2 linked regions of the Homo sapiens genome follow. The protein of the gene in region 1 purifies or fractionates together with the protein of each later gene. This does not show direct contact. Each region holds a gene or a part of one and is shown on either strand. Other genes may lie near its edges.

Region 1 (4,573 bases):
ATGATTCCATTCATTCTTTTTATGGCTTCGTAGTATTCCATGGTGCAAATGTACCACATTTTCTTTATCCAGTCCATTGTCGATGAGCACCTAAGTTCATTCCATGTCTTTCCTATTGTGAAGCGTGCTGTGACGAACATACTAGTGCATGTGTCTTTTTGGTAGAATGAGTTCTCTTGTTTTGAATATGTACCCAGTAATGGGATAGCTGGGTTGAATAGCAGTTCTGTTTTCAGCACTTTGAGAAATCTTCAAACTGGTTTCCACAGTGGTTCAACTAATTTACATTCCCACTGACAGTGTATAAGCATTTCCTTTTCAATAAAGCCTTGCCAGCATCTGTTGTTCCTTGACTTTTTAATAATAACCATTCTGACTGGTGTAAGATGGTATCTCATTGCAGTTTTAATTTGCACTTTTCTGATAATTAGTTATGCTGGGCTTTTTTTCATGCTTGTTGACCATTTGCACATCTTCTATTGCATATTCTCTATTTATTGAGACTTTGTTCTCCTGGTTGTTTCTTTCAGTTATTTTTCTATGTTTCCTTTCACTTTTTGTCCATGTTTAAGACAGTTTATTTGAAGTATTTGTCTAATAATTCCTATGTCTGTGCTTCCTCAGCTCAGGGACAATTTCTGTTCATTTCTTTTTTCCTTTGAATTGGCCATTTTTTCGCCTTTTTTTTTGCATGCCTCATAATTTTTTGTTGAAGATTGGACATTTTGAGCATTACGATGTGGTAACTCTAGGAATCAGTCTCTCTCCTCCCCCAGAATCTCTTGTTGTTTCTTAGACAACCCTATAGAGTAGGTTGTAATGATGAAACTTGGTAAATTACCTTGTCCCCAGCCCCCTTGGTAATAAATTGTGGAGTCAGGATTCAACCCCATACCCTTTCCACTGTATTCTCTACTCTATCCTTTCTATTCTCATTTTATTCAGTATCCTAAAAATCTGAATCTTCCCCATTGCTTTATTCCCATTTCAGTGAATCTCAGATCTGTATCTCCAGCCCCCTGCCTCTCTTGAATGGCAGATAAATATATTTCCAACTAGTTACACTGTCACGAATTTCAAACGCAGGAAGGCTTAAAGTAAATTTATTATCTCACTCTCCTGTTTCCACGAACTTTCCCGAAATTTTCTTCTTTCCCGGCCTTGTGAATCCCTTCCATTTCTCAGTTAAAGGACAGCACCATCCACCCACCTCTCTCAAAGCCGAGCTTTGTATTAATCCTCATTGACAAAATCCCTCCTGAAATATGAAACTGAAAGCCCTGAACCCTCCGGCTGATCTTGGAAGAGAAACCCCGCCAGAGGCCGGGGACCCGCTCCCCACCTGGCGGACCCGATTCCGGGCGCGTTCCGGCTATCGTCCCTGCTTGGGACGCTGCGCCCGCCTGGTGCGGGGCGGGGTTCCGGCGCAGTGGCGCCCGCCCAGCCCCGGGGGCAGGGAGAGCCTAGATTACGGAAGTACCGCGAGCAAGGAGCGCGGAATCGGGGAGCGTCCGGAGCTAGCTGGATCCTCTAGGCAGGTGCGTGGGCGCTGCGGGGTGGGGGGCTGCAAAGGTCCCTGTAGTCCTAGCCAGGAAGTGGCCCGCGTACTACTTTCCCGCCAGTGGCTGCACCCTTGCCCTGCGCGGCGTTGGCGCTGTGGGCCTGACGGCGCTGCTAGGCTCGGGAGTGGACTAGCTAGTGCAGCCAGCGCCCTCGGGGAGGGATATTGCGGTCGTTCCGCTCTGCCCCGCGGCGCAGCCCTGGTGACGAGAAACCGGGTGCGGTGGGGGGCGCCCACCGGAGCCGACAGTCACACCAAGTCTCCGCACCCCGTGCGGTGCGGTTCGCAGTAGCACGCGTTGTTTCTTGTTTCCAGTATGCCAAACGGCCTTCTTTCCTAAAGTTAGGTTTCGAATTGTGCAAAAAGTAAGGTGGTTTGGTGAGTAATCAGGAAGTACTATCTGACCTCGTGAGTCATTGGGAACACCGTGATAGAAACAATGTGTTTGTTGAGGTCCAAAGTTGAAAACCTCTAACTCAGTTAAGTAATTCCTGCTAGGAGGGCCGAATGGTTCACCCAGGGATCGAGTTGGTAGATCACAGGTTCTAGAAAACTAAGGCGCTGCTAAATATTCAAGCCCAAGCACTTTCAATTCTGGACTGCTGGATGACAACAATTATATGACAATATCCAAGCATAGTGCTATGATAAAGGGGAAGTTCGCTCTGAGATGTGCGTGTTGCAGACTCATTACATCTGACTTTATCATTTATTAAGTAAACATTAGGTCTTGTTTGTGTGCGTAGAGCTACTGTATATCATGTAGGAGTGAAATAAAAGTAGTACCTTTGTTGTTTAAGGGTTTAATAAACCCATTAGGGAGGTGCATTACTGATGCCATTTGAGTCCAAAATGCAAATAGTGTCAGAAGGCTTTTCTGTAATCCTGGGCTTTAATGGATACGTGAGAGTTTTTAGTAAGCAAGCTTTTATTGAATGCCCACTGTATATCAAAAGTGATCTTAGCGTGTGCTGACTCACACACTTCGGAAGGCGGAGGCTGTAGAATCAAGACTGCCCAGAAAGGGACTCCTCAGGGTTTTCCGAGAGGAGGAAATGCCAGTGGTAAAGACGAAGACCTGTGAAGCAGGAAGCCACTTGATTCCACCTACACCAATGGTTTATGGAGCAGCCAAGAGTTTGTGAGGAGGCGCGCTGAGGGTTTCTTAGGAATCGGGGCTGTTCCCTGCTGTCTTTGGGTGGAAGACACTCTGTGAATGTTATTTGGGGAAGAAGCTGGGAAGGGGGACAGGCTGGAGTGACTGTGCAGATTTGCCTTAGAGAATAACCAGCCCCTAGCCCAGTGTCCGCCACATCTCATATGTACGTAATCAGCGCTGATGAAAACATGAACTAACTCTGTGTTTAGAGAACACTTTGAAACAAGGAAGAACTAGTGGCGCATGTCGGTTAGGCGCTGTTAACCCAGAAGAGGGCTGGCATTTTACAGAGACTAGAGATGAATCTGTGGAAAGAGAGAAGTCAAGACCTGACTTGAGATTTCACGAAACCCAAAGTGCGCCTTTCCATACCTCCCACGCAGCCGCAGGTGCTAAGAACAGACCGCAGATTTATGTTTAAAATGTTTTTACTCTGGGCCGGGCGTGGCAGCTCACACCTGTAACCCCAGCACTCTGGGAGGCTGAGGCAGGAGGATGGCTTGAGCCCAGGAGTTTGTGACCAGCCTTGGCAACATAGTAAGAACCCTGTCTCTACCAAAATTAGCTGGGCATGGTGGTGCAGGCCTGTGGTCCCAGCTACTAAGTAGGCCGGGTGAAAGGATTGCTGGGAGGGAGGTCGAGGTTGCAGTGAGCTGTGACAGTGACCACACCACTGCACTCCAGCTTGGGAGACAGAGCCAGACCCTGTCTCAAATAAAATAAAATGTTTATACTTTGATTTCACAACTATGTGTATGTACTTAATGCCACTGAACTGTACACACAGTTTTAAAAACTGTACCACAATTTTTAAAAGGCTAAAAAATGTTTATACTCCTTGATTCAGTAATTCCATTTCTGGCCATCAACTCTAGGGAAACTATGACAGAGATGTGGCAAAAAAATATATGTACAAGCATTTTAATTAAAGTGTATTTCTAATAGTGAACACTTTTTTTTTTTTTTTTTTGAGACGGAGTCTCGCTCTGTCGCCCAGGCTGGAGTGCAGTGGCGGGATCTCCGCTCACTGCAAGCTCCGCCTCCCGGGTTCACGCCATTCCCCTGCCTCAGCCTCCCAAGTAGCTGGGACTACAGGCACCCGCCACTACGCCCGGCTAATTTTTTGTATTTTTAGTAGAGACGGGGTTTCACCGTTTTAGCCGGGATGGCCTCGATCTCCTGACCTCGTGATCCGCCCGCCTCGGCCTCCCAAAATGCTGGGATTACAGGTGTGAGCCACCGCGCCCGGCCAATAGTGAACACTTTTAAGTAACCAAGTATCTGATGACTTGGGGAAGGATGAAATAAACGCAAAGCTTATGTAACCACTAAAAACACCTTCAAAGAATATTTAGTGACATGGGGAGGATATCACTAAAAGCTAAATAAGCTGTGAAAGTGAAAGTCCTATTTAAAAAGTAAAGAGCAACTGGCTATAACATTAAATATAGAATATTAATAATTTAGAAAATACAATGATACAAGAAATAATAACACCAAAAAAATTAAAATATCAACAGTGGGGGCTAGGTGTGGTGGCTCATGCCTGTAATCCTAGCACTTTGGGAGGCAGAGGTGGGCAGATCACTTGAGCTCAGGAATTCGAGACCAGCCTGGCCAACATGGTGAAACCCCGTCTCTACTAAAAATACAAAAATTAGCTGGGCGTGGTGGTGCGTGCCTGTAGTCCCAGCTACTTGGAGGCTGAGGCACGAGAATTACTTGAACCTGGGAGGCAGAAGGTTGCAGTGAGCTGAGATCATGCCACTGCACTCCAGCCTGGGTGACAGAGCGAGACTGGCTCAAAAAACAAACAAATAAAAATCAACAGTGGGGTTATTTCTGGATGGAGG
Region 2 (3,810 bases), on another chromosome or scaffold:
ACCACTGCAGACCCCAAGTCTTACCTTTAGGCATCCTCCCAAGCACACGGTGGCTAGCAGCCGGCAGTCTGGGCTCAGGCAGCAGCCAGTGATTTGGTACTGGTGAGCCTTAGTCTGCAGCACCCTATCCCAGGAAGATGAAGTCAGTCCTCTGGACCCTGGCCATCAGCTCCCTCCTCATTTCCTTCTCCTGGGGCTTCCAAAAAATGGGGAAGGCCCTCATTCCAAGACAAATGGGGAGGACCCCTTACCGACAACCATGCTGCAGGTCCCAGAGCTCCAGGAGCCCGTCGAAGGCAGTAAGAAAGAGTGTATCATCGGAGAGGAACAAACAAGCAGAGATTCCATCACAGCCACTCACCACAGACTTCTCCTCCTGCGACAGTGGGTGAGGGAGCGCAGCTCAGGCCATCCCCTTGACCCTCCAAGTCCCACCACTCCAGGCCCCACCCAAAAAGAAGGCCAAGGCACAAAGGCCATGAGTCCTTGGCTCTCTATGTTCCAAGTCAAGCACACGTTCAAGTGGGGGCCTCGTGATCCAAGTGGGGCCACATTTTCTCCCCTACTCCAAACCCCATACCTATTCCCCAAGTTACAGAAAATTTTGATGGGTCTGAGAAAATGGGGTTACATGGGGTAGGGGATGACATGAGTGTAAAGAGGATAGAAAGAGGCTGTGGTTCTAGGACTCACCTCTCCAGCCTAATGTACTATTAGCCTCCCATAAGCACGCTGTGCTGCCATAATTCCCAGCAATTTACAAATTTACCAGGAACATTCCCCTCCTGTGTCTTTGCTCAGGTTCCTTGTTCAAACAAGAGTGCCTGCCCTTCTCTATCCTATGTCCTCCTATAGCTGCACAACTCACTCATGTCTTAATTAGATTACATGGCTATGTTTTGGTTCCTTTTTTACCTCGTATGTCTTATCTCCCAACAAAACTGACCACTTGGTGGGCAATGACAATGTCCCAAATCCTGTGTTTCTTGCAACGCTTAGCACAGTGCCTTAAATGGAAGGTGTGCAGCAAATATTTGCTGTGTGATTGATTTTTTGGCCAAGCCCTTTGAGCTGATGTGCAGGCAGTAAAGTTGCTGAATTAATCAGAGTGATAACAGGTGTGTTTGGCTCATCTAGGGCTTCAGGGCAGTCTGCATGGATTTTCAGAGGGTAAATTCTGCCCCTCCTTGATTGTCATACCTGCCAAGTTCTCAGGTCCAACAGGTAAACTGTCCCATTGGCAGTGCCCACAGCTGCTCTTTGCCCATTGGTGGAGAAGGCCACAGCAGTAGGGGATGAGGAAACTGCCAGAGACAGGCTGGAGCTAGAGAAAGAGTAGGAAGAAAGGGAGGAAATAAACGAGAGAATGCAAACAGGAGTTGATTTATGTGCTTCTGTGCCTGGATCCCTCTCCAGTGTTTCTGGTCATCCTTATTCCTCAGTTTCAGAAAGAGCTGCAGCTTGCTCTCTGGTGGGCTTACTAGGGTCTGGGGTCAAGGTCTTACCTTTGCTGATTTTTCATGGTCCGGGGTTTATTAAGCCATCGTAGTGTGTGTTGGAGGTGCCATCTCCGGGAGAGCAGCGAGGCTTGGTGGCAAAGAGGTGAGTCCAGGGGCTGGTTGGCTGCCTGCTGGGGCAGGAGCCGGGGGTACTGGCTGAGGATTGAAGCCTGCTGCCTCAGGAAGGTGCGAAACACTGCAACGTCAGCCTCGGGGAGCTTTTGTTCCTCTTTGGGGACTGAAGAAGCTATAAAAGGGTGGCAGAATGTCACTGGGGAGCCAGCTGGACCCCATTAGCCCCAGCACCAAATAAAACCATATGGTGTGTCTACAATAGTAAGTCTCAAAGTGTGGCCCTCTGGCCCTATATCAGGAATATCTCTTAAAAGTACAAAGCTTTGAGCCCCACTCCAAACCTAGGAAACCAGAATATGGAGACCCAAGGATCTGCAATTTGAACAAGTTTCCTAGATAGTTTTATGCTAACTAAATAAAGTTGAAGAATCTCTGGTCCAAGAGATCAAGGTGAAAGGTCTCCTGAGAGTCACGTGCTCACCCTCTTGGCATTTTCAACTCGAAATGGAAATTTGAATCTTTTTTCCCTGACACCCACACCCCTGCCCCAACCCTGAGCAGGGCCCCCATAAGCACACCCAGGAGTCCCATATCTCAGAGAAGAACCCAGCCAGTGACTCATCTCACCATAGAGGGCATGGGCCTCCAAGAGCCGAGAGACCAGACCCAATTCCAAGTGTGCAGCCACCACATGGAGGTTGGTAAGGAACTTCGAAAGAAGTCCACGGTTCCCGCTCTGGAGCTGAGAAGGTCAGATTGAATTCATTAGGGATATGAAGGGGCTGGTGAGAAGGGACAGTTTAGTCTCAGAACCTGGATACAGAGATAGGATCTGAGCTGGGACAAAGGACTTGAAGAAGAAGGGCAGGAAAACTGAAAGGAAAGAGGTCAAGGGAGTTTGGGAGGGGTAATGGCGGCGGTGATGGTGGAGATGGTAACGGGGAGAGGGGTCTCAGAGCAACCAAAGCACTCACTTTGGGAAAGGTGTCTATGGGGTCTAGGAACTAACCAGGTGGTAAGGCAGGTCTCCCAGAGCCTCAGGAGGGCAACTTCGGAAGGTGCCTGAGGCATCAGCGTCACATGTCTTCCAGAGCTGAGCTGCATGAACAGATATTGAGAAAGGCTCAGCCCTGCATCATTCCCAAGGGCAGTAGGTGAGCTGGCCAGCAGATGGGAGCACAGTGGGTGGTCCTGGCCTCCAGGCCCAAGCCCCACACTCAGTGCCCAGGCTGACTTGGGCTGCAATCACCTGCAATGAGGATGTGTGCCGTGTCCTCTAGCCCTGGCCTCTTCCCATAGCAACGTTTAGCTGCTGTTCTCAGGGGCCCATCAGGGAGGCACAGCCGGGCACCAGGGCGCTCCAGAGGGCCCTCCCCTAGCAAACTGTCCTCGTGTGAGGAAGGGAGAGAGAAGAAGGAAGAGGCCTGTCAGTGAGCTTCCTGGCACACAGTGGGCTCCTATTCCCCCCTCAAATAGCGGAAACTGGAGCAGCTGGAGCAGTAGCTCATTCATGGTCTGGGAGCCAGTTGTTGAAGCTATACAGAGGGCCCCGGCTCAAAGAAGGGAAGGCACAGAGAGGTCAGCGGGAGCTCTGCTGGGGCACCTGTACCTGCGCAGACTCTGGACGAGGCAGGCAAACGGGCCCATGGGGTAGGGGTCTCCACTGTTACCAGCAGCCACTGCTTCTTCCCAGCTCTTAGTCCCCTTCGGTAGTGTCCGCCACACACTCAGCACTCCGTGCAGCTGGTCCACAGTCAAACCTGAAAACTCAAGCTCTCTGAGGCCCTCATCTAACCATACGGTGTCCCCGCCCCCACCACACCCAGTCTCTCCTTGAACTGCCTGCTGAGACCCCAAGGGAACCAATGTAATCCGAACCCTGGCCCTCAGCCTCCCAACCAACCCACCCCAAGCACTGACCACTCCGTGTGACTTCTAGGGCAGTCAAGGCCTGGGGAAGGACATCAGGCCCGTGCTCCTTCTCCAGTGTGCTCAGGATGTGCTGCAGCAGCAGGGGGACAGTGGCAGGCAGGGTCCGGAGTCTCTCAGACACCTAGGATGGCGGGAGGACAGCCTTGTTCAGTGCAGTGGGAGGAGAAGCAGCTTGGCTTGTGGGATAGGGAAGGGGCAGCAGGAGGACAGTGTGGAGGAATGAAAAAGTAAAGAACAACAGTAGGAGGGAAGTGAGGCGAGGTATGAGGCGAGGATAGGGAGTGGGTGATCACAAGACAGCAAA

The links.
Region 2: the proteins of PARP4 (region 1) and TEP1 purify together in Homo sapiens (affinity purification with western blotting, with the first as the bait; one study listed by BioGRID). This does not show direct contact.

Annotation. Positions count from the first base shown.
Region 1 is NC_000013.11:24,509,671-24,514,243, reverse strand, and holds the start of PARP4 (protein mono-ADP-ribosyltransferase PARP4), read left to right. Parts: upstream 1-1,465; 5' UTR 1,466-1,538; exon of another isoform or gene 1,539-1,721; intron 1,722-4,573. UniProt on the Homo sapiens protein: Mono-ADP-ribosyltransferase that mediates mono-ADP-ribosylation of target proteins.
Region 2 is NC_000014.9:20,378,730-20,382,539, forward strand, and holds part of TEP1 (telomerase protein component 1), read right to left. Parts: intron 3,628-3,810; coding exon 3,495-3,627; intron 3,335-3,494; coding exon 3,184-3,334; intron 2,958-3,183; coding exon 2,824-2,957; intron 2,673-2,823; coding exon 2,584-2,672; intron 2,317-2,583; coding exon 2,202-2,316; intron 1,747-2,201; coding exon 1,506-1,746; intron 1,325-1,505; coding exon 1,201-1,324; intron 377-1,200; coding exon 252-376; intron 125-251; coding exon 25-124; intron 1-24. UniProt on the Homo sapiens protein: Component of the telomerase ribonucleoprotein complex that is essential for the replication of chromosome termini. Also a component of the ribonucleoprotein vaults particle, a multi-subunit structure involved in nucleo-cytoplasmic transport.